Linked DNA regions of Homo sapiens. The protein of the gene in region 1 purifies or fractionates together with the protein of each later gene. This does not show direct contact. Each region holds a gene or a part of one and is shown in the gene's direction. Other genes may lie near its edges. The genes, in order: PRXL2A, ENDOU, DSG3, AKR1C2, ALDH3A1 and SCEL.

What was found.
Region 2: the proteins of PRXL2A (region 1) and ENDOU purify together in Homo sapiens (affinity purification with mass spectrometry; one large-scale study listed by BioGRID and IntAct). This does not show direct contact.
Region 3: the proteins of PRXL2A (region 1) and DSG3 purify together in Homo sapiens (affinity purification with mass spectrometry; one large-scale study listed by BioGRID and IntAct). This does not show direct contact.
Region 4: the proteins of PRXL2A (region 1) and AKR1C2 purify together in Homo sapiens (affinity purification with mass spectrometry; one large-scale study listed by BioGRID and IntAct). This does not show direct contact.
Region 5: the proteins of PRXL2A (region 1) and ALDH3A1 purify together in Homo sapiens (affinity purification with mass spectrometry; one large-scale study listed by BioGRID and IntAct). This does not show direct contact.
Region 6: the proteins of PRXL2A (region 1) and SCEL purify together in Homo sapiens (affinity purification with mass spectrometry; one large-scale study listed by BioGRID and IntAct). This does not show direct contact.

The regions. Positions count from the first base shown.
Region 1 is NC_000010.11:80,432,203-80,436,067, forward strand, and holds part of PRXL2A (peroxiredoxin-like 2A isoform 1 precursor), read left to right. Parts: 3' UTR 1-3,865. UniProt on the Homo sapiens protein: Involved in redox regulation of the cell. Acts as an antioxidant. Inhibits TNFSF11-induced NFKB1 and JUN activation and osteoclast differentiation. May affect bone resorption and help to maintain bone mass.
Region 2 is NC_000012.12:47,721,787-47,727,178, reverse strand, and holds the start of ENDOU (uridylate-specific endoribonuclease isoform 1 precursor), read left to right. Parts: upstream 1-1,688; 5' UTR 1,689-1,765; coding exon 1,766-1,820; intron 1,821-5,392. UniProt on the Homo sapiens protein: Endoribonuclease that cleaves single-stranded RNAs at 5' of uridylates and releases a product with a 2',3'-cyclic phosphate at the 3'-end. The UU and GU sites are more efficiently cleaved than CU and AU sites. Targets mRNAs to regulate their expression.
Region 3 is NC_000018.10:31,470,870-31,475,702, forward strand, and holds part of DSG3 (desmoglein-3 preproprotein), read left to right. Parts: intron 1-1,414; coding exon 1,415-1,554; intron 1,555-1,855; coding exon 1,856-1,919; intron 1,920-3,251; coding exon 3,252-3,535; intron 3,536-4,776; coding exon 4,777-4,833. UniProt on the Homo sapiens protein: A component of desmosome cell-cell junctions which are required for positive regulation of cellular adhesion. Required for adherens and desmosome junction assembly in response to mechanical force in keratinocytes.
Region 4 is NC_000010.11:5,000,757-5,006,120, reverse strand, and holds the start of AKR1C2 (aldo-keto reductase family 1 member C2), read left to right. Parts: upstream 1-2,263; 5' UTR 2,264-2,285; coding exon 2,286-2,369; intron 2,370-4,439; coding exon 4,440-4,607; intron 4,608-5,364. UniProt on the Homo sapiens protein: Cytosolic aldo-keto reductase that catalyzes the NADH and NADPH-dependent reduction of ketosteroids to hydroxysteroids.
Region 5 is NC_000017.11:19,737,062-19,741,894, reverse strand, and holds the end of ALDH3A1 (aldehyde dehydrogenase, dimeric NADP-preferring), read left to right. Parts: intron 1-684; coding exon 685-802; intron 803-1,417; coding exon 1,418-1,559; intron 1,560-2,220; coding exon 2,221-2,387; intron 2,388-2,799; coding exon 2,800-2,899; intron 2,900-3,441; coding exon 3,442-3,572; intron 3,573-3,659; coding exon 3,660-3,674; 3' UTR 3,675-3,906; downstream 3,907-4,833. UniProt on the Homo sapiens protein: ALDHs play a major role in the detoxification of alcohol-derived acetaldehyde. They are involved in the metabolism of corticosteroids, biogenic amines, neurotransmitters, and lipid peroxidation.
Region 6 is NC_000013.11:77,566,706-77,571,538, forward strand, and holds part of SCEL (sciellin), read left to right. Parts: intron 1-974; coding exon 975-1,043; intron 1,044-1,589; coding exon 1,590-1,628; intron 1,629-2,665; coding exon 2,666-2,746; intron 2,747-4,833. UniProt on the Homo sapiens protein: May function in the assembly or regulation of proteins in the cornified envelope. The LIM domain may be involved in homotypic or heterotypic associations and may function to localize sciellin to the cornified envelope.

The DNA.
Region 1 (3,865 bases):
ACTCTACTCTCAGTATGGATTATTAATGTATTTTAATATTCTGTTTAGGCCCACTAAGGCAAAATAGCCCCAAAACAAGACTGACAAAAATCTGAAAAACTAATGAGGATTATTAAGCTAAAACCTGGGAAATAGGAGGCTTAAAATTGACTGCCAGGCTGGGTGCAGTGGCTCACACCTGTAATCCCAGCACTTTGGGAGGCCAAGGTGAGCAAGTCACTTGAGGTCGGGAGTTCGAGACCAGCCTGAGCAACATGGCGAAACCCCGTCTCTACTAAAAATACAAAAATCACCCGGGTGTGGTGGCAGGCACCTGTAGTCCCAGCTACCCGGGAGGCTGAGGCAGGAGAATCACTTGAACCTGGGAGGTGGAGGTTGCGGTGAGCTGAGATCACACCACTGTATTCCAGCCTGGGTGACTGAGACTCTAACTAAAAAAAAAAAAAAAAAAAAATTGATTGCTGTGCCTCATTACAAATGCATATGATGTTTGAGTGCTGTTGTTTGAAATTATTTTTCTTTTCGGGTCTTCAAAAATTCAAGAAAAGTTGATGATTGACTTGAAGATTACAAAATTTAAGGTTTTTTGGCATGTGTGTTTTCTATTAATAATTGGTTATATGATGTCAAAGTAATACTTTCATAATAGAATTGACATGCTCTGGGATAGTTTGACAAAGGTAAATTATAAAGTGAAATCTCTTGTTTCATTATCTTCCATTCTAACCTCAGAGATCTGTTTCTCTAGAAAAAATGTCCATCTCTGGCTTTAATAAAATTATGCATCAGAAATCACCTGTATGTATAAGATTTTCTGATAAAACTAATAATTATATTTACCATATAATTGGCTGAAAGTAAAAAAAGTCAGCATTCTCCATGGCTGAGGGGTAAAGTGCCTCGGGGGATTCCTCTGGTTCTAGCTATCTAAGTGGTTTGAAAATGACCAGGAAAAATTCATCCTGTCATTCACGTTAGTAATTTTGCTGTCTTTCCTAGAGGAATGACTTTGGTGTTTAAAATTGGTAGCTGTTTTTCTATTGGTCTTTTAGCCTAATTTGGCAAATCAGAAGAAAGGACATAGAGATGATGAAATATAACTTTATCTTTTTTGTTTGAATTTTGTCGTGTAAGTTTGAGTGACATCATCAAGACCTACCAGGGAGCTCGGCCACAGGGAGTCTACTCAAGGCATCAAACTGGCCCAGGAGTAGAAAGGTGGGGGTGGAAATAGGAAATAGTGTTTACCCAGGGGACTGGCCCAGCCAGGAGGAGAAAGGAATCAGTGTTTACCCAGGAAAGCAAGAATGGATACTGATGTTGGAGGTAAAGCTGGGAAAGTAGGAGAGCATCGGGATTGAGTATGCAGAGTGAGTTAGGGTTGAGTGGTTCGGGACTAAGACCCACTAAGACCATGCCTGCACCTGACTTCATGTAGCAGTGGTTGCATGGGGTATGCATGGGCCCTTAAAGGGCTGGGCTTCTGCAGCATTTGAGGCCATAGCCTTTGGTACTTGCACAGGGTTGGTACCTGTCATCCTTGGGACTCCAGCTACTGATAGGATAACTCAGTACCTAAACTTAGAACTTTAATACCTAAGACACTTGATGGTGAAACAGTTCTCTTGCAACTAAAGAAGAACCTGAGGTCAGGTGTGGTGGCTCACGCCTGTAATCCTAGCACTTTGGGAAGTCGAGGTAGAAGGATCACTTGAGGTCAGGAGTTCGAGACCAGCCTGGCCAGCATGGTGAAACCCCATCTCTACTAAAAATACAAAATATTAGACAGACGGGGTGGTACATGCCTGTAATCCCAGCTACTTGGGAGGCTGAGGCAGGAGAATCGCTTGAACCCAGGAGGCAGAGGTTGCAGTGAGCCGAGATCGTGCCACTGCACTCCAGCTTGGGCAACAAGAGCGAAACTCCATATCAAAAAAAAAAACCTGAGAGGACATTGCACCAATGGAGATGCATCAAGAGAAACATGTTTGGTTTTTTGTGAGCTCTCACCAACTTTTTTCCCCTGGGTCCTCACGTGCAGTGTGGTCTTCTCTTTCTGATTAGCATGTCATTTTGGAAAGAGCACTGGATTGAGTCATGAGGCATAATCAATTTCTAGTTTACCAGTGTGATCTTAAGCAAAGATCTAACTCATTGGCAAAATGGGCGTGATTCCTTCCCATTCAGGGCTGTTTATGATAAGTCACTGAGGGAATGATAAATATTATGACACTGCTTCTCAGACTGTAATGTACATGCACATCACATAAGGACCTTATTAAAATGGAGACTTAAAAAGCTGGACGCTAAAGGCAATAATGACAGATTTTACTCAATAACTACTGCAGAAGGAGAGAGTCCTCAGTATAGAACTGAGCTTAGCTCCAATCTGTGCAGAGGTGATGGAATTTTAAAGAGGGGAGGGAGGAGGTTCAAATAGAACTAGGGAAGTGCAAAATTACAAAAAGCTGGTAAGGAGATTGGTCAATGTGATTCGGCTATCTGTGTCTACTAACTCTCAAATTTATTTATCAAAGTTAGGATCCTAGCCTCCCACAGAGACCAGGAGTCGGCCTTATCATTCCTGATAATTATATGACAAAGGGATGGCTCCCAGAAAAAGTGAGAAACACATTCCTGTGCAGCAGAAGATACATATATCCCCCAAAGGGACAGAAAGGATTTACAATTGTAAATTTTATAAAGTATGTCCTCTAAGAAGAGGGAGGGACTGGGTGCCATGGCTCATGCCTATAATCCCAGCACTTTGGGTGGCCAAGGTGGGTGCATCACCTGAGGTCAGGAGTTCAAGAGCAGCCTGGCCAACATGGTGAAACCCTGTCTCTACTAAAAATACAAAAGTTAGCCTGTTGTGGTGGCGCGCACCTGTAATCCCAGCTACTCGGGTGGCTGAGGCAGGAGAATCGCTTGAACCCAGGAGGCGGAGGGTGCAGTGAGCCGGGATCACGCCACTGCACTTCAGCCTGGGTGACAGAGTGTGACTCCATCTCAAGAAAAACGAGGGAGATTAGAAACCTATGATCAGGCATTGGCTGAAACAAATGGTAAATTCTTTTGGCAGCCTTGAGCTTCCCCAGGCAGGGACCCAAAGGGGCCTGGGTTATCCCTGAGACAGGGCCTTGAGCTGCTAGAAACTATGCTAGTGTTTGTTCAAGTCTCTCCGTGTCCGGGGTGAGCAAAATTGTTTGTGCTGAAAATCAATGATTTGCAGCTCTCAAGATTCCAGTGGGCAGTCTGGGTGGGCCTGAGTTTCTGCTTTTTTTTTTTCTTTATGTACAGGGTCTTGCTCTGTCACCTAGGCTAGAGTGTAATTAGTGGCCCCAGTCATGGCTCACTGCAGCTGCAAACTGGCTGCAAGCTGTTCTGGCTCAGCCTACCAAGTTACTGGGCTTACAGGTGGATGCCACCGTACCCAACAGATTTTATTTTTGTAGGGATGGGGGTCTCCCTGTATTGCCCAGGCTGGTCTCAAACTCCTGGCCTCCCAAAGTGTTTAGATTACAGGTGTAAGCCACCACACGTGGCCAGCCTCTGCATTTCTAACAGGTTCCAGGTGATCTTGATGTTCTGCTGGTCCATGGGTCACACTTTGAGAAGCATGGTTCTAAAGGACTATACAGATTAAAGTCATTAATCTCTGTGGGCTTTGGACTTGAAGTTTCAGCAGCCTTTGACAAGCATTTGCAGGTTTCCTTTTTATTTATTTGATAAACTGAGAATCCACATGCAAAGAAATGCAAGAAAATTCAAAGAACGTAAGAAAATGTCCTTGCTGTAAAGCTGGTGGTTCTCAATCTCGGATACACAGTAGAATCACCTGGTGCGGGGGTTGGGGGCGGGGTGC
Region 2 (5,392 bases), on another chromosome or scaffold:
TGTAAATGAAATCTATGCAAATGAAGCAGCCATTTCTGCTCTTACTCATTCTAACCAGCTCCCTTCTGGGAGAGAAGGGCTAGGCTCACTCTTTAGTTGTGCTTCCGGGCTGGATGCAGTGGCTCACACCTGTAATCCCAGCACTTTGGGAGGCCAAGGTGGGCAGATCACCTGAGGTCAAGAGTTTGAGATCAGGTTGGCCAACATGGTCTCTACTAAAAATACAAAAATTAGCCAGGTGTGGTGGTGCATGCCTATAATCCCAGCTACTCGGGAGGCTGAGGCATGAGAATTGCTTGAGCTGGGGAGATGGAGGTTGCAGTGAGCCGAGATCACACTGCTGCACTCCAGCCTGGGCGACAGAGAGAGAGATTCCATCTCAAAATATATACATACATTGCACTTCCTGTGTGAGCCCCTTGCAAAGTTTGCTTGCCCTAGGCTTGTCCTTCTCTCTACCCCTGAGTCCCTATGTTTGGACTCCTCTCTACACAGCAACAGGCTGGGGGATTCTCTTTAACCCACCAGCAACTGTTCAACCTGGCGCATGGGCAGGAAAACTCGAGATTAAAGTCTGAGAACCTGGAAGGGATTGTCAGATCCAACCCCATCATTTCAGATGAGAAAGCTGAAGACCAGCGAGAGGAAGAAACTTCTCCTGTTAAAGCACACTGGATGAAGACGTGCTCCACTCCCAACCTCCAGAAAAAAATCACTGATAGAGTGGCCTCCACTGTTCACCAATTTTGCCTTTTTATATGATAGTTTTCTTTCCTGAGAGGGTTGAGAATCCCCATGCAGTGCTCTTTCTGGCAAGGGCATCATACTTGGCAGATTTTACCTTTATTATCGGGGAAAACTGGACAGTCACGGGGAGCTGCTCCCCTTCTTTTGGACTTGGAAACAAAAGAACCTCACTGGGGAGGAGTTCCTGAGGAGAGGAGTGTAAGTTGGGGTGAAGGGAGTGAAACCCTGGGCTCCCAGGGGAAGAAGAGTGGGCCTTCGGCTGCCTTTAAGAGGCCTCTTGCCCCTCCCCTGCCTCATAAGGAATCTGAAACGTTTAAACCCCAGAGGCTGACTCAGTAAGAGTCATTTGCATAATATTTTAGAGTGATTTAGCCATGCGCTCGACATGTGGCTGATTTAGCTATGCTGGGCTTGGTGGTCATAAGAATAGCACTGGTTCTGACCGACACATCCTCTATCTCTCTGTCCAATGACCCCAACCCTTGCTTGGGCACTTACTGTTTGTCAAATTTGGACCAATCACCTTACTGTGTGCCAGTGTCATGCTAAGCTCCAGGAATTTGAAGATGAATCCAACCTGTGGCCCCTTGGAAAGTCAGGTCTGAGACTTGGAAGTAGGTGTCTGTTTGGTGGGGATCACCCAAAGATCAGCCCATGGGTGTCCCTAATTTGGACAAAGAACCCTCCAAACTGGACCCATCTTGGTGTGCCTGCCTGCATGACCTATTTTTTAAGCTGCAAACAGCTAGCATTACCTGTTCTCAACATCTGGCATTACCTACCTTCTTAGTCACCTTCCCTCAGGCTTCAAACAGCTGTAGGGCCCCACCTCCTATCCATCTAGGGTCCCTCCCTCCCCTTTTTCTTCCTGAAAGGATCTGGAGACACCAGCTCCACAAGTCCTGGTGTCTTTAAAAGGATCAGCTTGAGGAATAAGGCTCGTCTGAGAGCTGTGACATTCATCTGACTCTAGTGAAAGTCCAACAGCCACTCCCTTTTTGGCCTCCAACTGGGCACCATGAGGGCCTGCATCTCCCTGGTATTGGCCGTGCTGTGTGGCCTGGCCTGGGCTGGTAAGTCACTATCTGGCGGGCATGGGATTGCTGGTGGGGCGGGATCTTGCCTAAAGAAGCAGAGAGTTGGAGAACTTGGTAGAGGGCAGGGCCGTGGGACAAGGGAGGGTGAGCTCTGTCCTAAAGCCGCAGAGCACTTTTGGGTTGTCCTTGTCTGAGGGTGCAGGCGTTGGTCCCGGAATGGACTGGACTATGTGGAGAGAGTTGCAGGGCTGATGGTCTGATTTCATGGAATTCCCTTCTTGACACCTTGGAGGATCAGCCCCAAATATCCCTTAGTCCAGCCTGACTTTTGATCTCCCCAAGATTTTGTTGTCTGGGGCCACTGTAAGGAATAAAGCTAGGGCTGGTGTCCATGGGGTCTGAGTGGCCTGGCTGCCCTTGGTCACTCCTTCCACTGCCTGGTGACAGGTGAGGTTGTTTAGGGTGTGATGTTACTTTGGGTAGAGCCTTAGGAGGTGGGCAGGCTTAGGAGGAAACTGAAAGGACCTTTGACCAGGAGGTGGGCCTCGTCCTATCTGGGGCTGTACAGGGGTCAGAGGAATGGATCTCTGTTGCAGTGTTAGGAGAATTGAAGAATACAGAAGGGACCTGGCCCACAGTTATGAGAGGTCCAGGGGATGGGACTGGCAGAGGAACAGGACCATGTTCCTGTTTAGTAACTGTGCAAAATGCTGGTGCTGATGGGTTAATTGGTAGCTAGTGGGTGGGTGGGAAGGAGTGCCAAGGGAGGGGCTGAGCTGAGGAGTGTGGGGAGAATCCTCCTCTGCCCACAGGAGAAAGAATCCTTCCACTGGGTTGCTCCTGTGTAGGACTGTGGAAAGGATTAAATGAAATAATGTATGAGAAGCACCTGGTGCAAAGTGAGATCTCAGTGAACTGGAAATTCGCTATGATTATGACTATAAATTTTCTTGGGAGAAACTTCCGCTTGGGGTCATTTCCAACTGGGTTGTGGAAAGGAGACCCTTATGGGATTTCTAAGTGGAAAACCCCTGGAAGAGGAAGTTGTGCCTCCCAACCATGGATGAGATAGTGCATCTTACCAGAAACCAGCTCTGCCTGGGCCCTAGTGGGTGGAGAGGCAGTGGGAGAGCATGAGGGTGGGCCTGGGAGCCACCAGCCTCAGCCCTGTTGGTTGGGAGGAAGGTGGAACTTGGGGGCTTAATGTGTAGGGGTGGCCAGCGGGCTTGGCATATTCCAGCCTTAGGGAAGGAGAGCAACTCTGGATATTTGGTCCCTGGGGGGCAGAGGTAGCAGTGGCTTTAGAAGTGCAGGTGGAGCTCTTGCTGCTAGGTCGGAGGGCAGTATCTGCTTTGGCTGTGGGATCGATGGGGAAGTGAGGTCAAGTGTATGAGGCTTCCTAAGGTGGCAGGGAAGAGGCTCTGCACTTGTTGATACTATCCCAACATCTCAGAACTGAGAGGCAAGAATATGAATCACATGGGGAATCACTGACAGCCTCAGGTCCTCCTTTATGAGCTGGATGTCTGTGGAGAACCTTGGTTGATTTTTTTGGTTGTGAATGGAGGCAGGAAGCTAGTCCAAGGGGTGAGGCTTCTTGGTTGACTAGGTCTCCATGGAAACAGCATCTGGGGCCTTCTAACGGTACAGATGTGTAGGATGTCCCAGTCATCAGAGGGGCTGAGCACCAGTGTACAGGGACACTGTGTCCACCCAGGCTTGGGACCAAGCTTCCTTGATGGCCAGTATGGATAGGGAGTGGCTGTTCTGGCATATTGAAGTCTTAGAAAGTGCAGAGAAATTGAGCATTTCTTGGGGGAATGGAGGGAGAATCTGAACCCGAGAGAGGAAAGGCTCAGATGAAGAAAGGCAGAGAGTCAGAGAGGTGAGGCAGAGGAACAAGAGGCACAGGTTACTACAGCAGTGATTCAGGCACCTGGCTTGGGGAGCAAGGCTTACTCAGAGTGTTGGTGTTAATGGTGCAGTGTGGGGATGCTGGAGTGAGTTGTTAGGGTGACTAGTTACTCATCAGAGTGTCCCCAGAATGTCACAGCAAAGTGCCTATGAGGAAAAGTTCCTCCCACCCCTGCACTCCACTGTCAAATCCCAAGGTCACCTTGAAGCAGACTAAGTGCACAGAGAAATGTGAGAAAGTGCTGGCATGGGGCTCTTGCTGGAGACAAAGTTCTTGAGCAGAGATGAAAAAGCCCACTCAGCTTGGGCCGGCGGGGGTGCTCTCCTGCACGTCCAGCTGACTGCTCGCTTGCAACCCTTCTCAACTGGTGCCAGCTGCTGGAATGAAGTGAATTCTTTCCCTGGACTCTGCTGATTTGGCCCATTAAAAACATTGCCCTGATTTGCCTGAATTCTCTCCCTTTGGATTCTGGGTGTACTGCCAGGCTGACTGAGCAGGGAGCTGATGGGCTGAAAATTTCTCCTTAAGGTCTTTGCATTCAGGCTCCAAGGGAGCATCATTTAACATTCAAGAGGAGTTCCTGCCGGCTTGAAGGAACAAGTGGCCTTGGGCCTGGTCTCTTTTAGGGACTGGAAACCTGCCTTCCTGCCCACCTTGGAGGCCTGACAATGTGAAGTTGTCTGAGGACCCGGGTTAACCTTGACCCAATGCCTCTCTGATGTAAAGAATACAGACCTGTAGTGATGAAGTCAGCCAGGAAACCAGCAACACAGATGTGCTGACAACCCAGCCCAAGGGATGGCCCTGTTGAAACCCTGGGAGAGTGTCAGCTAGATTAAGTGTGTCGACGGGGCCACAACACAGGGAAGACTGCTCCAGCCAGTCTGAACACTTGTCACTTGGAAGATGGGCATGAAATATTGCCACCGTTTATTCACCTAACAAATACTTCTATGGTACTACTATGTGTCACTTGCTGTCCTAAGTGCTTTACATATATTAACTCATTTAATTCTTACAAATATTCTATGAGATAGGCTCCATTATCATCCCACTTTTACAGATACGAAAACCAACGCACAGAAGTTCAAATAACTTGCCCAAGATCACATAGCTAGAAAGCAGTAGAACCAGAATTCCAGCCTCAAGCAGTTTGGCGCCAGAGTCTAGGTTCTTGACCTCTCTGCTATGCTGTCCCTCATTAGACAAAGTATCAACCTTAATCCCAGAATCCAATACTAGGGACTGGTAACCAAACCCAACCTCTAATATTTAAGCTCTAACCCACTCCAGGCTTAAATTAAGATACTACACCTGTATTGAATCATAACCAGAACCAAGCCCCCAAACAAAACAGGGATTATTCATCTTTTTCTCATCCTGACACATTCCTCAACCCCGAATGTCATCTTAAGTCTATTCCTATTCCTTACCCAAATATCAATACAAAATTGTTAATTTATCAACTAATTTAACTCAAGCCCAAATCCTAACTGTAGTTCTTAACCTAACTAACCCCAACCCTGGTCCAAATTAGGTTTCAGTTTCCTCACTGATACAAATTCTGATGCTGATGGTAACTCTGACTCTGATCTTGACATTCTCTGTAACCCACAGTATGACCTCTGAACCCAGCGTTCGTGAAATCCAAACCTCAGGAACCTCAAATCGAACAAAGACTCTGTTATCACCC
Region 3 (4,833 bases), on another chromosome or scaffold:
AAATTGTGGAAAGTGAAGGAGCAACAGAGAATGCATTGGGACTAATTTGAAAGGGCTACATACACATGCTGTGGTGTTTGTACTTTATCCTATGAGAAAGAGGAGCTGCTAAAAGCATTTGAATAAAAGACTAACATGATCATATTTGTATTTTAGAAAGACAACCCTGGCAACAGTGTGTACAGTATAACAGTGTAAATTAGAAAGGAAAGAACACTTAAGAGGTCATTGTAAAAGTTCAAGAGAGATGATGAAGGTCAGATTTCGAGCTGTGACATGAGACTGGAAAATAAAGGACAAGTGTGCAGTGCATTACAGTGGCCCCTGGAGAGGATTGGGAGATTAATTGTTATGGTCTGAATGTGTGTGTCCCCCCAAAAAAATTCATATGTTGAAACTTAAACCCTAAAAAAATAGTATTAAGGAGTTGGGCCTTTACCTATATTAATTCAATCCTCATAACAACCTATGATGTAGATACTATTTATTCCCCCATTTTATGGATGAGTTAACTGAGCAAAGAAGGATGATATTACATGCCCAACATTACATAGCTGTTAAGTGGTACAGCCGAAATTTAAACCCTAGAATCTGACTTCGGAGGCTGCATGCTTAAACCCCTCACTAAGCTGCCTCTAAGTGAAGAGAGTTGAAACATTAGGATTCAGGTGGCCTTGGCAGGGCAGAGGTGGCAGTGGGGCCACTGACAACAAAGTGTGGGAAACACCTGCTTTCAAGAATAAGTATTTCACTCTTGGTCAGTTCACATGAGAATGACATTAATCTTTATTGCCAAGGATGTGCACAGAAAGATATTTACGCTGCCAGAAGAGTCCTCCAAGCTTAAGCCACAACTAAGAAATTCTTAAATTACAATTAAGAATGCATTGACAGCCATTGATTAGGCTATCACCCTAGTTACTGAGGGAGTTTTCTGGTTAATTACTGTTTACTGAGAGATAATTAGAGACTAGATTACCAAAACACCATCGTGCCCACCTAAAATCTGGACCATTCTGGTCATATATTTATCTGTGTATTCACCTGACACAATATACATAGCCCCAACATGTGCAAATAAATGCAATAATCATAAAAATGTATTAAGGAAAAGGATTGAGGAGCCAAACAGCCACTTTCATTCATACATCAGTGCCTATTTTAAGAAAATATACCAAAAAAATAACAACAAGAAATGATCTGATCTGTCTCCTTCAGTTTCATAATCACATGAAATTCTAGTGTGCTTACTGTACCAAGTTTCATTTGTAGAAACTAATTTTGGTTTTCATTAGGAATTTTCTACAAATATTTAAGATACTGTATTTTCTTTGTAACATTTCTGAAAAATTATCACATTAAATAGTTCCTAAATTAGTCAAGTGTTCTGATGTTTTGTTTTGTTTTTCACTAGTGGCCCCCCTTCTGCTGTTGACCTGTGACTGTGGGGCAGGTTCTACTGGGGGAGTGACAGGTGGTTTTATCCCAGTTCCTGATGGCTCAGAAGGAACAATTCATCAGTGGGGAATTGAAGGAGCCCATCCTGAAGACAAGGTAAGCATCCAGTTCATAAATTATGTATTTCAATTACATAGAGAAAATGTTTGATTTACATTGAGATAGGAAAAGAGGCAAAGAGATTTCTTGACCTTCAGTTTCAGAGTCAGTGCTGAATAGATGGAGGCTTTTAGGATTTTAGCTCTTCAGATGTCAAATCACAGAAATGGTTATCGCTGAAAGAATTTGCACTTCTTGTAATGTTATCATTTACAAATTTGCAAAGGGCCACATGTCACTATATTGCTCTGAAATCTGGTTCACTTTTAAATGAATTTATTTTTCACATGGTTTGCAGGAAATCACAAATATTTGTGTGCCTCCTGTAACAGCCAATGGAGCCGATTTCATGGAAAGTTCTGGTAAGTGGACATAAAATGTTTGAAAGCAATGGTGAGTTAAGTGGTAAATATTAAAAAATAAGAAGTGTTCAAACTATCTTCTTAATAATTTGCATCTGTGTGCACATGTCAGGAGCTGTTACCACTGAAATGGAGAAAAGCTGTTTTAATATTTTTATATTAGTCAATTCCCTGACATGTCTGGCTTCAATAAGTTAATTTATCCATTGATGCCACCATTGTCAATATCTAAAGATCTGTTATACTTTTTCCAAACTTTAGTGACGTGTAGTTCTCAGGCAATCAATTACTAATTTTTTAATTAGGAAAGACTTCACACATATAGAAAAATGTAAGGGAAAATATAACGAACATCTATGTATCCACCACCCAACTTTGTCTTTTCCAAACATTAGTCATATTTTCAGTTAAAGTCTCATGTGCACATCCTTGATCCTGTTCCCCTTCTTTCTTCCCCAGAACTAACAGTATCCTGATTTCAGTTCAATTACTAATTCCTGCATTCAGTCATACTAGGACATGATCACTTATGTTGTCATACAGGTCATACAGGTGAATTTGTTTATTTCTTTGGTTTTACCAAGTGGCTATTGCATTAATATTATCTGAGTGCCACAACTACTCAGTGAACTAAAAGAACAATAATACTTAATGCCTAATATTAAAGTTTTGCTTAATTCCATAGATTGTTTTCAAGTGTCCATCCTGCAAAATCCGCATGAGATTTCCCCAAATATGTAACTGTCTTCCTTTATCAGATGCTCCACTCCTCACCTGCTTTTCCCATTAGAATTACATAGCAAGAGCTATGTAAAGAATTATCTAGAAAAAAGTAACTTTCCATGAAAGCATAATGTCAAGGTAACAGGCTGAATAGTCATGATTTGTTAAATTCTCTTTAGGTACCAAGACATGCTAATTTGCATGATTACATTACGTATGTTTCCTCTTTGGTTTCCATACTGAGCTCATAGGACTGCTTAACTATAATGTTTTTTCGTGAAAACAAACAAGCATTGCATTAGAAGCTTCCCATAACTGTGTACTAAATATCCTGTCTTTTCTATTTCTGGCTGTTGTCACTGAAAATCTTATTTCTTTGTACACTTTTAAAATTAGTATATTTTTAGAGCTTTTTCACCCGTTTATATGCCCTCCTTTGTGACTCTCACATAACACATTGTGGGATGTTATCACCTCTAGTCATATAATTGTATTTTCTCCCACTTACTTGTTTGCATGGTGACTGCTTATAGACACCCAAGACCCATTTTATAAAAATGCAACAAACAACAGCATAAGATATTACAGAATGTTCTCCCTTGTTTTTAGAAGTTTGTACAAATACGTATGCCAGAGGCACAGCGGTGGAAGGCACTTCAGGAATGGAAATGACCACTAAGCTTGGAGCAGCCACTGAATCTGGAGGTGCTGCAGGCTTTGCAACAGGGACAGTGTCAGGAGCTGCTTCAGGATTCGGAGCAGCCACTGGAGTTGGCATCTGTTCCTCAGGGCAGTCTGGAACCATGAGAACAAGGCATTCCACTGGAGGAACCAATAAGGACTACGCTGATGGGGCGATAAGCATGAATTTTCTGGACTCCTACTTTTCTCAGGTAATTTGGTGAAAAACTTTGTGGCTTGATTATCTTATTTACATTAGAGAACTTTTTATTTGATTATATACTTCAGTTTTGCAGTTTTTATTTACAGCTTGTTAAAATGCAAGAAAAAAATGGTTTGTTTGTTTTTTGCCAAAATAATACAGATAACCTAAGGTAGCTGTCAAAATCGGGTCACTGATCAAAAGAAGAATGGGAGCCAGGCACAGTGGTACATGCCTGCCATCCCAGCTACTCGGGAGGCTGAGGTGGGAGGATTGCTTGCACCCAGGAGGTAGAAGCTGCAGTGAGCTATGATGGCACCACTGCACTCCAGCCTGGGTGACAGAGTGAGACCTCGTCTCTAAAATAAACAAATTAATAACAAAAGAAGAATGAGTAGATAACCACAACATGAGAGCATATAGCAAGTAGTATCTCATTCCTCCAACTGAACAAACAATTGAGGGCAAATCTCTTTTATGTGAGAATTTCTAGCATCTTCTTTAAGAATACAAAGCAGTTCATTTTGTATTTCCTGTATCATAAAGGATATCCAAATACCTGTGTGTATATTTTCCTGAGAGAGGGGTAGAGTATTCACATTATCTGTCTAAAAAAGTTGAAGAACCACTGAATTAATGACCCCCAAAAAAGGGGAGGCAAAAAGAATAGGATGGAAGATCAGTGATGGGAGGAATGACATGTCAGGAAGCATAGAACAGAAAAGGAACATAGTTATGAAAACAAAGAAGACTTTGAAAAGTAGGATGCTTGCCTCTCATTTGATAACCAAAGATTAGTGGGCAGAGAGGCACGGTTAGAATGGATCTCACATTGAGTTTTGGTATCAATACTGGTAAGTGCCAAGGTCTGACCTAGTATCCAAGCAGACAAAGAGTGATATTGTGTTTGAAGAAAGACTGCAGGGCAGGGGAGAAAGGGAGGGGTTGTTTGAGATGAGGACTCTTGGGATATTTCTAGGTGGGATGTGTGTTACAGTCACATGTCAGGCTCCCACAAGATTTGTAGAATCTAGACAAAGGTTCTAGCTCAATTTTGAGGTAATGTCAACCATACTGTTGTCCAAACACCAGATAATGTTTTGAACAAGATTGTTAATAGACAGTGTCCTTTATTTCTATGGATTACCTAGTTTGGGCATTCATAATCCAAATGAGTTCTACAAACAGTATTATATTGTTCAACTGACTCTTTCTTAAAATTCATTTTTTCCCACTTTTTCTCTGTCTTAGAAAGCATTTGCCTGTGCGGAGGAAGACGATGGCCAGGAAGCAAATGACTGCTTGTTG
Region 4 (5,364 bases), about 75 Mb from region 1:
GCTTGAAGGTGTCCCATAAGTCCCTTAGGACCTGTTCACATTTCTTTATTCTTGCTTCATGTCCTTAGACTCAGGAATTTCAAGTGTGCTATCCCTATGTGTATTGATTATATCTTCATCCTGCTCAAATTTGCTATTGAAACACTCTCTGGTGAGTTTTTCATTCAGGTATATTTTTTAGCTCCAATTTGTTTCCTTTTCTTTTTATAATTTCTGTATTAATACTATATTGTGATTTTCTTATTTTTTCAGATTTTCTGTAGTTCTTAATCCATATTTTTCATTAGCAATTTTAGCATATTTAAGACAGCTGTTTAAATGCTTCTCTACTAATTCTAATGCCTGTGATTCTTCAGGAATGATTTCTACTGATTTATTTCTTCCTCATAATGGACTGTGATTTCTTGTTTCTTTGTATGCCTTGTCATTTTATTTTTTTGAGCTGGAGTCTTGCTCTGTCACCAGAATGGAGTGCAGTGGTGCCATCTCGGCTCACTGCAACCTCTGCCTCCTGGGTTCAAGCGATTCCTCTGCTTTAGCCTACCGAGTAGCTGGGACTACAGGTGCTCACCACCACGTCCATCTATTTTTTTTTGGATTTTAGTAGAGACGGGGTTTCACCATGTTGGCCAGGATGGTTTCCATCTCCTAACCTCGTGATCTGCTCACCTTGGCCTCCCAAAGTGCTGGGATTACAGGTGTGAACCACCGTGCCTGGCCTGTATGCCTTGTTATTTTATTTAACTGGGCATTTGAAAAAATAAACATCTTTTTTACTGTATATAGATTTGTTCTATGTCATGACAGTCATTAACTTATATGTGCGGCAGGTTCTCAGTCAAGGCATCAGCCCTACGTAAAACTCAAGTCCTTCTTAGTTTGTTTCTGAACATGTACCTATGTGGACTGTGTTTGCCCTTTTATATTTCCCCAAATAACCAATGGCTTTTGAATTGCTTACTATTATGAAATTTTGCATCCCAGTTTCTCCTCAATAGCTTAGATGGACTATTGCATGTCTCTTCCCCTGGCCTTTTGCCTATAACATCTGTATGTGTATAGTCACCCTGAATCTCTACTGAGCCACTCCAGAAATAAATAAGTTTATTTCAGTCAATTTTAGGTATTTTCTGATGTTTCCATGAGTTATATGGGAATCTTAGAATCCACCATCTTGTTGAAATTACTCTGTGAAAAATTTCAATATCTTTATAATATTACATTTATGTCAATGATAACAATTTACCTATTTTTCAATTTCTGTTTGTTTTATGAGAAAGCAAATAGAAGCAATCAGGGCACTGCAAGTTGTGACTACTCCAAGATGTGAATCATGGATCATGCAAATTACAATCTTGTTTTAACCTGACCTCCAAAGGGAGAATAAAGTAAAAATTATCCCATGTGAGGATTATTCACCAGTTTATATGTCATTAGTTACCAGTTTTTCTTTATGAATAATGTTTAGCAATATTATAAAGTATATCTAATAGTTATCAGGTTTTTGGCTTGTTACTTTTTGGTAGTAACTTATAAAACTGACTGGAAAAGACCAATAAGGCACTGTTTGCATGTTACAAATTATATCCAAAGACCAAAAGCTGTTAATAAGAAATCTTCCAATAAAACCACATCATATTTTCTTTTTTATTTACACCCACATCAGGATTACAACTTTATCAGGACTGCACCTTGATCAGGAAGGGATGTTTCTCTTACAAGGCTAATAAGAAAGGAACAATAAATTTGCTGATGAAAAAAAGTCATGCATTTAAAAATTTTAACTTTAATTTTTAATTGAGGGCAATATTTTAAAGAAATGCTCATTAGTCATTCCTTTAAATTGTGTGTGTGAGAGAGAGAAAAATGAAAATTAGTCATTTCAAATGCTGCAAGATGCAGAAGGAACTCATCATCATGGCACACACAAAAAAGAGCTGTGCCGCTAGAGGTTTCTATATTCTTATGTAAAGTCACAATTTGTTCTACAAATCTCTTTGAGTAATTTATGTCTCATATATAGAGATCTGGAATAGCAAAAATACTTCAGAGGAAATTAATGAGTGTATCATGACCACATAATAATTTACTTATGAATTTTCTTAGGTAAGAAACGGTTGAACTGGATGCAATTTTTATCACAGCTTGTGTAAGACTGCCTCTGTCCCTCCTCTCACATGCCATTGGTTAACCAGCAGACAGTGTGCTCAGGGGCGTTGCCAGCTCATTGCTCTTATAGCCTGTGAGGGAGGAAGAAACATTTGCTAACCAGGCCAGTGACAGAAATGGATTCGAAATACCAGTGTGTGAAGCTGAATGATGGTCACTTCATGCCTGTCCTGGGATTTGGCACCTATGCGCCTGCAGAGGTAACAATAATATTTTTAGTGTTGAGAGTTCAAAGGAGCTAGAGTAAGTGGAAGCTGACCAGGTTGTCAGGCTTGTGTTCCTATGTTACTCTGCATGACTCCCCTTTAAACGTCAGTCTTTGTTCTGCAATGCCGTCTTGTCACAGGGTCATCTACTGCTTATTTGTGGCACTGTTTTGTCTTCTGTTTATGTTTATTTCACAGCTTGTCAGAGTCTATAAAACTCAGCAGAAAGAACACGGCTTGCCTGCTCCCTCTCTTGAAGATTGATTGCAATGGGAGTGGTTTCTCTGTTTCTTTGTATAGTCGAACAGATATTTACTTCTTCCAAGAAGATACAATTCAGAGGAATTTTTATGGCAAAAGTTAGTGGAGACGGGGTGGATGAAATCTGTTGGGAGAGTATCACTGTTCTGATGGGCGGCCTTGAGCACCACACTGTAATACTAGACCTGGCCTAAAGAGAATTTCCCATGTACTATTCTCACCTCTGGGAAAATTACCTGAAATAATAAAATATCCTCATTTTAAGAAAAAAAAAAAAAAACTAGAACCAAACAAGGAAAGTTTAAATTCTTTGTCTTTGTTAATATGGGTCAGATTTGTATCAAAATATTGTAACAGAAAAATTTCTTGTTTCTCTGACAAGAAAATTAATGGAATATATTTTATTTTCTAGATTTAGAAATAGCTAAATGCTATTTCTACACTGGAAGAAAACTTGTATCTCAAGACTGTCTTGGGAATACAATGTGTGTGAATAGGAACTAGTTATATAAAATTTGAGTCTCACATTTCTCATCTATAAGACATAAGGAGTTACAAAGGGACATTTTGAAGACCATTGACAGGAGTGGTTTATTTTGTAATATAAATTGGCATGGAGAGGAAGTAAAGATGAGGATACCACTGAAGCTCCGGCCTTGGTAAGCCTTTGATTGCTTGCACAGCGAAGAGAAGATCAAAGATGGTATGAGGAGAGGGCTGTGAGACCCGGTATCTAGTTCCTTGTAATTTCACAGGAAAAAGCCTCTGAAATACTTTCAAGGTGGGAAGATAGTTTGCTTTGTTTCTGTTTTTGTCATTTAAAAGATATACTGTCAAATCTGTATCCAAATTTGTTACATAAGTCAATAATTGTAAATTTTACTGCAATCATATGTTTCCTGACAGAGTTGCCTTGAATTTATGGAGCTGAACCCCATTTTGCTAATCACTTACTCCCTGCAGCCTATTTCTTACATACACAAATCAATATCCTTAGAGTATACATCTTTACTCCTAGTATTTGGTTCTGTTATGCAGACAGAATGGCCAAAACCTGGGTAGAAAAGATCTAACATAATAGACTGCTATCCATAGATGTGCCTATTTCCAATATAAACCTGCTGGCATCTGAGAAAGTGGAGTTCTCCCTGTTTCCTAACTGATAAGAATGGTGGCTCTACGTAACTGTTTGTGTAAACTGTGGGGTTTCTGTGCACCTGCTTTGCTTTTGGAGACTGGAAGATTTGTGTCTGCTAGGCAGAGTGAGTCAATGTATCCAGTCCCAGACAAAATCTTAGCAATGGAGTATGTAGAGGGCATCTCTTGTAGACAACAGTTCACATACATTGACAAAATATGATGCTGGATAAAGTCAGTGCGCTCTGTGCAACATGGTGGGAGAGGAATCACAGGAGCTTACACTGCATTCCTTCATAATTCCTTCCATGTGGCTATTTCCTTGTGTTAATTTCACCATACTAAAAATAATTAAGATTATGTCTGTAACTATAGTTGCGTCCTGTTGATTTTTCCAAAAAATCACTGAAAGTGAAATTGTTTTGGGGACACTTCCAAGCTAGTGGTCAAGCAGTGATTTTTCTGGGACTGCAGAAGTTCCTGCTATGCCCAACCTTTATTACTAAATGGGAAAGACCCAGTCAGACTGGGATGGGCTTATGATTCTACATACAGAGCTCATCCAAGAAAGGAGGAAAAGCTGATTTTTGTGAACGTTGCTGCTTGTGCCCGAACTAACTCTCAGGCACATTAGTCAGAAAATATTACGTTTGGTTGCTCCCCCAGGTTCCTAAAAGTAAAGCTCTAGAGGCCGTCAAATTGGCAATAGAAGCCGGGTTCCACCATATTGATTCTGCACATGTTTACAATAATGAGGAGCAGGTTGGACTGGCCATCCGAAGCAAGATTGCAGATGGCAGTGTGAAGAGAGAAGACATATTCTACACTTCAAAGGTACTGTGCCTATGATGAGCTTGTGTGCACATGTATTTATTGTGATTGTGTGGAGGTGGCAGTTCTATGACTGGATCCATAGTTGAGGGTGAATTGTGCTTATTTATTTCGATTTATTCACACTTACTCATGTATTAAAACTAATATCAAAGGCAGGAAGTGAAGATGGCTTTCTCATCTTTGCAGTGTTCCAATTCATGCCTTCAAAGTGCCTTTACTCTTCGAGCTCAGCACAGATCAATATGGTTTAACATAGACTATAGAATGAGAGATAATCTTAATCATATTATGTTATCTGTTACCTCCTGGGTGAGTTTCTTACATTTGTTATGATTCTGAGTTTCCATTGTCATTTTGATCAGAGAGAGAGAGAAAGCGATATAAGAGAGCTCAGTGAGTATAAAAGAGTGATACCTACATTGTTTTAAATTGCATCCAGCCCAAGTTAACATATTAAAAACTGTGTTTGCCTCCTCAGTTTCCAAACCACAAAGATACTTAGTCTTGCCCATTGGGCTGAATAGATGAAATAATTACACCACTAATATGAGTTGTAAAACTTACCAAAGATAATTCAGATAATGGGTATGCTTATGATTTGATAACAACTTTTACCTTTTGAGTAATTTCACTCTTTCATTCAATATATGTACTAACTATATATCCAACATATTATAAAGTTCATCATGATATGGCAGAACAAAAGGCATCACAAGAAGAGAGAGAATAATTTTGCCTGTGGTCATTAGTTTTGAAG
Region 5 (4,833 bases), on another chromosome or scaffold:
CTCATGGAGCAGTGGTCCTTGCAGAAACTTACATGGGGGTAGGGGTGGGGACCACATGCACAGAAGACGTGTGGGGAGTCCCAGAAGGCTTCCTGGAGGGGGAGAGGTCTAGGCTGAGCTCTGTTTGCTGAGTGCGCATCACTGGGGAAGTGGTACTCCAAGCAGAGGCTGCAGAAAAAGCAGCTGTGGGACGTTCAGGACACAAGGAACTGTACTGGGTTCAGCCCTCTGATGGGGCAGGGCAATCTGAGTTCTGGAGAGCAGGCCCAGAGGGGAGAAGGGCCACCGCTGCTCGGGGTCTGGGGCAGAACCCGTATCTGCACCTCCTGACCCTAGCCAGGGCTCTGACCACCTCCATATCCCACATCTGTGGCCCCAGAGATGTAGGGGGGCCCGAGTAGCAGTGACACCTGGCTGTGCAGGACAAGGGCGTGATCAGGGAGCACGGAGGTTGCCCTCAACAGACGTCCTCTAGAAATTCCCCACCAGTCGCCGGTGAACATGATCAGGGCCATTGGGTCTGCTCGGTCCAGTGTCTAGAAGTGAGCAGACCGCTTGGGAGGACTCACTGGTGGCAAGGTCACAGCCGATGGCTTCTGCTGACCAGAGAGCTCAGGGGTCTGCAAAACGAGATGCAACTCCTGGGGAACCTTTTGGATTTAGTCCAGTCTGGGATTCTCACAGACGCATCGCCTGGGGGAAATTCATGAACAGTGGCCAGACCTGCGTGGCCCCTGACTACATCCTCTGTGACCCCTCGATCCAGAACCAAATTGTGGAGAAGCTCAAGAAGTCACTGAAAGTGAGTGTTGACCCCTTGGCAGGGTGGGATGAGAGGCTGTAAGGCACAAGGGGGGCCTGGCCCCTTAACCAACTTCTACAGATTTGGAAACACTGGATTTATTTTCTTCTAATATAAACATAATGCAAGCTAGGCATGGTGGCTCACACCGGTAATCCCAGCACTTTGGGAGGTAGAGAGTGGAGGATCACTTGAGGCCAGAAGTTTGAGACCAGCCTGGGTAACATAGCAAGATCCCATCTTTACAAAATATGTTTTTAAATTAGCCAAGCATGGTGGCATGGTGGTGCATGCCTGTTGTCTCAGCTACTTAGAAGGCTACGGCGAGGCTGGAGCATTGCTTGGGCCCAGGAGTTTGAGGCTGCAGTGAGCTATGATTGCACCACTGCACTCCAGCCTGGGCAACAGAACAAGACCCTGTCTCTAAGAGAAAAAAAAAAGATAATGCACACTCACTATAGATTATTTAGAAAAGATTAAAAAGCATAAAGAAGAAAAAAGCTCCACCCAGAATCCCACCACCCAAAGACAGACACTGCTGGCCTGTGTCTGTGCAGCCTTTGGGCAGGACGAGGCTCTGCGTCCTTACCCGAAGCCCCCACCTCTTCTCCACAGGAGTTCTACGGGGAAGATGCTAAGAAATCCCGGGACTATGGAAGAATCATTAGTGCCCGGCACTTCCAGAGGGTGATGGGCCTGATTGAGGGCCAGAAGGTGGCTTATGGGGGCACCGGGGATGCCGCCACTCGCTACATAGGTGCGTGACCCCTGAAGAGCACAGCCCACCTGCCCAGGCTGCAGGGGTCCCCAGCAAGTTCACAGCAAGTGGGCACAGATGCTTGATAAGCGGACACGACCTCGGGATGGGTATAAATTGCTTTCACCAGGGAGCCTGCGGTAGACTCCAGCAGGCAGGGGCTGAGGACAGCCCCTGCTTCAACCTCAGAATCCCCTCTCCCAGCAAAGGCCCAGAAAGAGGGGCCTCATCTCCCTGCCCCTCTGAAGCAGCAGGAGCAGGGACAGCAGAAGCCACAGGAGCCCCAGGTGTGCCCAGCCGTGAGGGGCCCCCAGTGCCCAGGCTGTGGGTCACCAGATGGGACCCTCTTGGCCCCGAGTTTGTCAAGGAGACAAGAGAATTCTGGCAGGGCATCAGGTGGCCGGCAGGTGCAGTGCCTGCTCCTGGAGACAGATCTCGGGTCCTTCCGTACAGGTTAACCTATAGTTGTCCCCAGTGGTCTGCTCAGATGGCATCCAGGACGCAGGTGCCTAGGGTACCTCTCTGAGGCCTCGTCCCTGCCCTTTTCCAAGCCTGGGCAGGTTTGCCTGGAAAAGGGTTGGAGCAGGGGTCTAGGTGCTTGCACTTTCCATCCGCGTGGGGGTCTCTGCGCCGTCCAACTCTGGCTTGTTTCCTGCCTCAGCCCCCACCATCCTCACGGACGTGGACCCCCAGTCCCCGGTGATGCAAGAGGAGATCTTCGGGCCTGTGCTGCCCATCGTGTGCGTGCGCAGCCTGGAGGAGGCCATCCAGTTCATCAACCAGCGTGAGAAGCCCCTGGCCCTCTACATGTTCTCCAGCAACGACAAGGTGGGTGGTGGGCCTGGGGTGCCCTCTGCCAGGGTCCTGGGGCCCACAGACCTGGGTTCAAACTGCAGCTTCACTGTTCTCTGGCTGTGTGACCTTGGGCAAGTCACTGGATCTTTCTGAGCTCCTTTCACCTCGTCTGTAAGATCAGGACAGCAGCATCACCTGAGGGCACTGAATGAGCGATCCTTGCCCAGGGCCCTGCACACAGGCATGGGGGCGGCTGCTGTCACTCTTTGCTCATGTGGTGCTGACAGCCACGCGGTCTGCAGGAAGAGCAGGAGATGGAGGCTAAGGCTCTGCCTCCACCTGCTCCTGTCCTTGTGGCTCCAGGCTATACCCAGGCAGGGTCGGGTTGGGGGCTGGGGCATCCTGTGGGCAGGAGACTGAGGCCAGTGGCTGGGTCCTGGTGCAGGTGATTAAGAAGATGATTGCAGAGACATCCAGTGGTGGGGTGGCGGCCAACGATGTCATCGTCCACATCACCTTGCACTCTCTGCCCTTCGGGGGCGTGGGTGAGTCTGGGGCTGAGCTTGCTGCCTCCCTCTGGGCCCCAGGGCTGGGCACACTCACCCAGCAAATTCAGGAGGGACCACCTCCTGCAGCCCGGGCGGCAGCCTCCCATTAGCCTCTTCCATTTGGACCTTGGCCTCTGCGTGCCATCCATCAGACACACTTAACCTGGGAGCCTAGAGGTTCCTAGAGGTCACCTGGTGCACCGGCCTATTTCATGGAGGCCTGAGAAAGGTGACCCAGGCCAGAGGTCACACAGCCATTTAGTGGCAGAGCTGGGATTAGACCCTTGCTGGGCACTCCCACAGTGTGGATGCCCTGGGGACACCCTAGACATTGGCCACCCTCAGGAGGCCCAGAAAAGGGCCACAACCTGGGGCTGGGTGCTGAGGGCCATAGGATTTGAGGGAAGGATGGGTGATGGTGGCTGGGGCTCTGCCTCCCTGTCCCTGTGGTTCTGGGATACACCCAACAAGGTGGAGAGGGAAACCTGGGGCGTCCTGGGGGCAGGATGCTGAGCCCTGTGCTTACTTCTCCTCCGCAGGGAACAGCGGCATGGGATCCTACCATGGCAAGAAGAGCTTCGAGACTTTCTCTCACCGCCGCTCTTGCCTGGTGAGGCCTCTGATGAATGATGAAGGCCTGAAGGTCAGATACCCCCCGAGCCCGGCCAAGGTGAGAGGGGGAAGGCGCTGTGGGGGAGACCGGGCTGTGCGGGACCAGGGCCTGGGGATCACTGCCCACTCCGTGTCCCTTTCACAGATGACCCAGCACTGAGGAGGGGTTGCTCCGCCTGGCCTGGCCATACTGTGTCCCATCGGAGTGCGGACCACCCTCACTGGCTCTCCTGGCCCTGGGAGAATCGCTCCTGCAGCCCCAGCCCAGCCCCACTCCTCTGCTGACCTGCTGACCTGTGCACACCCCACTCCCACATGGGCCCAGGCCTCACCATTCCAAGTCTCCACCCCTTTCTAGACCAATAAAGAGACGAATACAATTTTCTAACTCAGCAAATGCAGGCATATGGCACTTCTTTTGTAGCCCTGCACCCACCGACCTGTCCTGCCTGATCCCACTGCCCCACGCAGTGTGGTCACTGATGTACCAGCAAAGGCCTCTCATCAGCTGGTGGGGCCTTGTGCCAGGAGGCCATGCACGGTGTCAGGGTGACACTTGTCTTCCTTTTAGACTTGGGGAGGTCAGCTCCATCTCTGGTGTGTCCAGCCAAGGAGAGCCTGAGGAGGCTGGGCCTTGTCGGCACAGTGGCTCAGATATGGGGAGCTGATGCCGTCTCTTCCCAGACTAGCTTCACTATCTCGGGCAGGGGCCACTTTGTGAGACGATGCAGTAGTCAACACAAAACGCCCTGGTGATGTCATAGTGCTGCTCGTGGGGGCAAAGGACCCGAGGCCAGGCAGCACCAGCACCCACGGTGCCTCAACTGCATGGCGTTGGGCTGCAGCTGGCCCAGAGTCCCGCCCCAGAGGCCTGAGGAGCCAGGACAGGGTCTGGCAAGGGGAGTCTGAAGCTGGGTGTTCTGGGGGCTGGTTAGACTCAGAGCCAGGAAGCCTCCCAGCCTGGGCCTGGCAGGTAAGGGGAGGCTGCTGGGGGAGACCTGCTGAGGCTGGGCCTGTCCCTCAGGGTCCTCTACACAGACTCTCCTGGTATCATGCAGGAAAGCCCTCCCGGCTTTTGCTGAGATTTCCTTGTGAAAACATAGAGTTTTGTGCCACCACCAACAGGTGTGCCTGGCCCCACCTGTGCCTGCTCCCAGCAAAAGCCCACCCTCCACCTGGCCCGTGCCCCGCCACCACCACCCCCTTCCCACTCCTGACCTTACTCTCTCTCCTGCATCTTCAGTTTCCCCTTCTGTCCTGGACCATTCCTATTCTCTAGTGTCTTGAACCTTATTCCAAGTCCCCCAGACCCCAAATGC
Region 6 (4,833 bases), on another chromosome or scaffold:
TGGAGTCCATGAAGTGACTCAGGGACCTAAGTTCTTTCTATATTTTAATGCCGCCATATTTATGCTGCCATGCATACCAAAGCCATAGTAGAAGGGGGAATAAATAACAAGGAAGACCACCAGGAGGTTTTACAATGGGTCTGGAAGTGGCAGATAACGTATCTGCCCACACTCTTTAGTCTAGAGCTCAATCACATGGCCCCAACTTAATTGCAATGAAGGTTGGAAAATGTGGTCTCCCTGATTGCTCAGAAAGAAAAGAAAATGTGTTTTGCAAACACATAATATTGTTTATGCCACAAACCTTAAAAAAAAAGCCAAGTAGTTCATTGATGCCTTTTACTGACATAGGAAGTACTGTCATTGACAAGATATATCATTAGAAAATAATGAAAATGAAAATAGAGTTAAATGCTCAATGAGTCAGAAAGACAAACAGGCAAAAGGCATAACACTTAAAATTTCAGGCTGGGTGCCTTGGCTCACACGTGTAATCTCAGCACTTTAGGAGGTGGAGGCGGATGGGTTACCTGAGGTTAGGAGTTCGAGACCAGTGTGGCCAACATGGTGAAACCTCTTCTCTACTAAAAATACAACAATTAACTGGGCGTAGGGGTGCGTGCCTGTAGTTCCAGCTGCTCAGGAGGCTGAGGCAGTAGAATAGCTTGAACCCTGCGGGCAGAGGTTGCAGTGAGCTGAGATCACACTACTGCACTCCCGCCTGGGCAACAGAGCAAGACTCCATCTCAAAAAATAAAATAAAATTTCAAACTATATTAAAACAACCTCATAAGTAGATTTTGTCATAAGTGGTTTCTTTTTATTTAAAAATTTTCTAAAATGTAACACTTGAAAAATAGTTCTCTTTACTAGAGAAAGGCTATGTTGTTAAGCTATTCTAGCATGAAAATGGTCTGAAAGGAGTTTGATAATTTAAATATTTATCCAGACTTTTGTCTTGTTTCTTTATAAAGGATCTCAGACAGAAATGATGCTGCTAAAACATATAAGGCCAATACCTTGGATAACCAACTAACCAATAGGTACCAGTATCTACTAACTATGGGAAAGGCTCAAGTATAATATTTTTCTAAGTGTTACCTATGTACTTGCAATTCTTCAATCCTACTTGATATCTTTCTGTAAATTCTTAGTCTCTATCATTACTCCTGTTCATGGCTAGAATAAAACCTTGTTGTTTAGCTTAAGAATCAAGAGCACTTGTAGCTCCAAATCACCATTCTTACCACATTTATGTTTCTGTTTAAGTTGTCCTGGTGGCAAAATTATGAAATAGGTGCAAATGCAAATTTTACATTATTATTGTTAAGGAAAATTACTGAACCCAACAAATAAAAATATTGGGCTTAAAAGATACTAAATTTTCAGAAGAAAAAAAATTCTTTGGAATCTAGTACAAGAGACAAAATCATGAAATCATCTTATGAAATTTATTAAAATATGATGCTTTCTATTTCTTTCTCTCACCAGTGTCTAACTTTTAAAACTCTAAATTCAGGAATAATTCCAAATAGATGCAAATGTTCATTCTTCATTGTTCAAACTTTGCTTTCTTTCTCTCTTACCAGGAGCATGTCCATGTTTAGATCACTGGAAGTAACAAAGTTGTATGTATTCTTTCTAATTGTAGTATATTTCTTTTTATGTATTCAAGAAAAACCAGGGAAAACCACCTCAGGCCAATTTTATTGGAATACAGCCATGCCCCTATTGCTCTGGCAGAGTTGAGTAGTAGAAGACAATACCAAAATGGTCTGTAAAGGTTCAAATGTGACTATCTGGACTTTTGCAGAAAAAAAAGATTGCCAATCATTACTCTATCCAAACACCAAAGCTTAGATCATCCTTTCTTTCTTCTTCTTTATTAAAATCTAGACTCCTTATTTTTTCCCCTACAGGACTTTTCTTCCCTCTACTCTCACAATAATTAACCCTTCCTCCACACCTCACTTCCTTCCCCACCCACCCTTCACATCTATGCCTCCTCCTTCAGAGAAAATTGAATTGGGAAAACATGGGGTGAGCTAAAAATCTATTTAAATGGAACACATTTTCCCTGGAATGTACTACTGATGGTTATAAGCAGCCCAAATCAGACAGATTTATAAACTTACTTTATTTTTGAATTCCTATTTATGTATAAAGTAATTTATACACTGGATCACACCTCTCAGTGCTTGAAATGGGCCTGGGTCACTTCCATTTTTGAGGCTCTGCATATATGAATAAATGCCAGATAGAGACTTAAGATGGTATGATTTAAAATTTTTTATTAAGCAATAATGCTTCTAATGCAAAAAACCGCAACATAATTAGTTAGTCACAATATAATCACAGGAATAAAAGAAATGTGAATCTGTAGCACGCCAGAATTGATTTGTCTGAATTTCCGACAGTTAATGTCATTTTATGAATCACTTCTTTATTCTATTCCTTTAGTTTTAGCTAGTTCTATGAGAACCTGACAACTTCTAAAATATGTCAACTAAGGAAGAAGATTTTTGGCTGTTTTTCTATCCCCAAGTGAAACATTTTATGAACAGAGAGCAGGCAGGAATATGAGTAGAATTTAAGACTTTTCAAAGGTAGGCTGAAATGAAAAAGTTTGAGAGTGGGATTAATTGTTGTTCTTGTCATTAAACAGGCAACCTGGCGGTTCATTGAATGCCAACACCTCCAACACCATAGCATCCACTTCTGCTACTACTCCTGTAAAGAAGAAGAGGTAGGATGAACTCACTGTGTCTACCTCTTGCTGATACACTATGAAAGACTGCATTAGAAAGCTTCCTCCTCTTTTTTGTGGGGATCCAGCATCTACATTCTGCTGTTCCCAAACTTCAGCTCTTTCCCCCAGCAATCTCTTTCTCAAATATAGAGTCTTGTTTTCAATTCCTGTAGGGCCTTGAATTTCTAGGAAATGTTTTAGATGATAGAGCTCGCATGTTAAATGACAGACTACTTGAGGTAGCATGTTTCATGGAGTCCTGCTGCTGGGAATGCCTTAACCTGAAATAATGATGAATGTAGGGCCACATGCTGCCATGCTCCTGAAACCGGCCTGTATCTGGAGATGCCGCCTCTGCTCTGTGGATTGGGCTGGCCTTGCTTCCAAATGCAGAGTCAAAGACCCTTTCTGGAGACATCCATCTGTATTTGTTTGGTTCTTGCCTCCTCCACCGACCTCCTCTGCATGGTCTCCCACATTCTGCTGGTGCTGAGTCCTATGTAATTAGCAGGTACAGAGGAGTAGTTGGACCAATGGTGACCAAATATTCTTCATGAGACAGAACATGATGGTGAAAGAGATGTTTGCATGTTGAAAAAACCCCAGGGCTATGAATTGTGATGCAAATGGAAAACAAGCATTTACAAACATCAGTGCTTTTAAATTTTCTCAATTTCCCTGTCTGTACCTGGGTCCATGCTCTGTACAGGGTAGGTGCTCAATGTTTGTTGATGGACTGGCTGACTTTGCCATGGTGCTGCTGGAGAAAAATGACTGATTCTGTTTTTTCCTTCAACAAAATTCTGGCTGTAGCTGCAAAGTCTTAGAAAATGTGATTCATCTTTCCATTGAACCCAAATTTCATGTCCCTTGACCCTTTGCCTAGTAAAAACAGATTCCTAAGTTTGAAAGAGAAATTTTAGGTCAGTCAGTTCCATCTCCTATCTAGTGCAAGAATCTTTCCTCCGACATTTTGGGCATAATTCGGGACCACTGAAGCCATCAATAAGATTCTCACTATTTTGGGACACATCTTTGACTTGCTCTCCTGGGTAGCATCTATTCCTTACATTGAGCTGGAATCTGCCTTGATTGACTCGTTCCTTGTCTTAGTTGAGTTCTGCAGCGGCTCAGAGAATAGACCTACTTAAACAATTTAAATCCAGCTTTCCTGTCTGCCTTTTCTTCTGTAGTGCATATCATTCTCATCTGAATATCTTCAGTTTTCATCCATATCTTGATCTTTCTGCTTAGCAATTGCTACCAACTAAAATTATGACCTAGTGATGTGAGGACATCTTTCTAATTGAGGTTAGAACTGAAGGTAGTGCTGCTATAATATTCACTTACGCTTTCAATATTTTTACTTGTCAGAGTTTTCTATCAGTTTCTTTTCTTTTTCTTTTTTCTTTTTCTTTTTTTTTGGAGTGTGCAGTGGTGCAATTTCGGCTCACTGCAACCTCTGCCTCCCAGGTTTAACCAATTATTTGCCTCAGCCTCCCGAGTAGTTGGGAGTACAGGCACATGCCACCACGACCAGCTAATTTTTGTATTTTTAGTAGAGATGGGGTTTCACCATTTTTGCCAGGCTGGTCTTGAGCTCCTGACCTCGTGATCCACCCGCCTCAGCCTCCCAAAGTGCTGGGATTACAGGTGTGAGGCCCTGCGCCTAGCTCGCTCACAGTTTTTTAAAAATTGTATTTTGAGGCCGGGCGCGGTGGCTCAAGCCTGTAATCCCAGCACTTTGGGAGGCCGAGGCGGGTGGATCACGAGGTCAGGAGATCGAGACCATCCTGGCTAACACGGTGAAACCTCGTCCCAGCAACTCGGAGGCTGAGGCAGCAGAATCGCGGAGGGCGGAGCTTGCAGTGAGCCGAGATCGCGCCACTGCACTCCAGCCTGGGAGACAGCGAGACTACATCTCAAAAAAAAAAAAAAAAATTATATTTTGAAGCTGGGCGCAGTGGCTCATGCCTGTAATCCCAGCACTTTCAGAGGCCGAGGCAGGTGGATCACCTGAGGTCGGGAGTTCGAGACCAGCCTGACCAACATGGAGAAACCCCATCTCTACTAAAAATTACAAA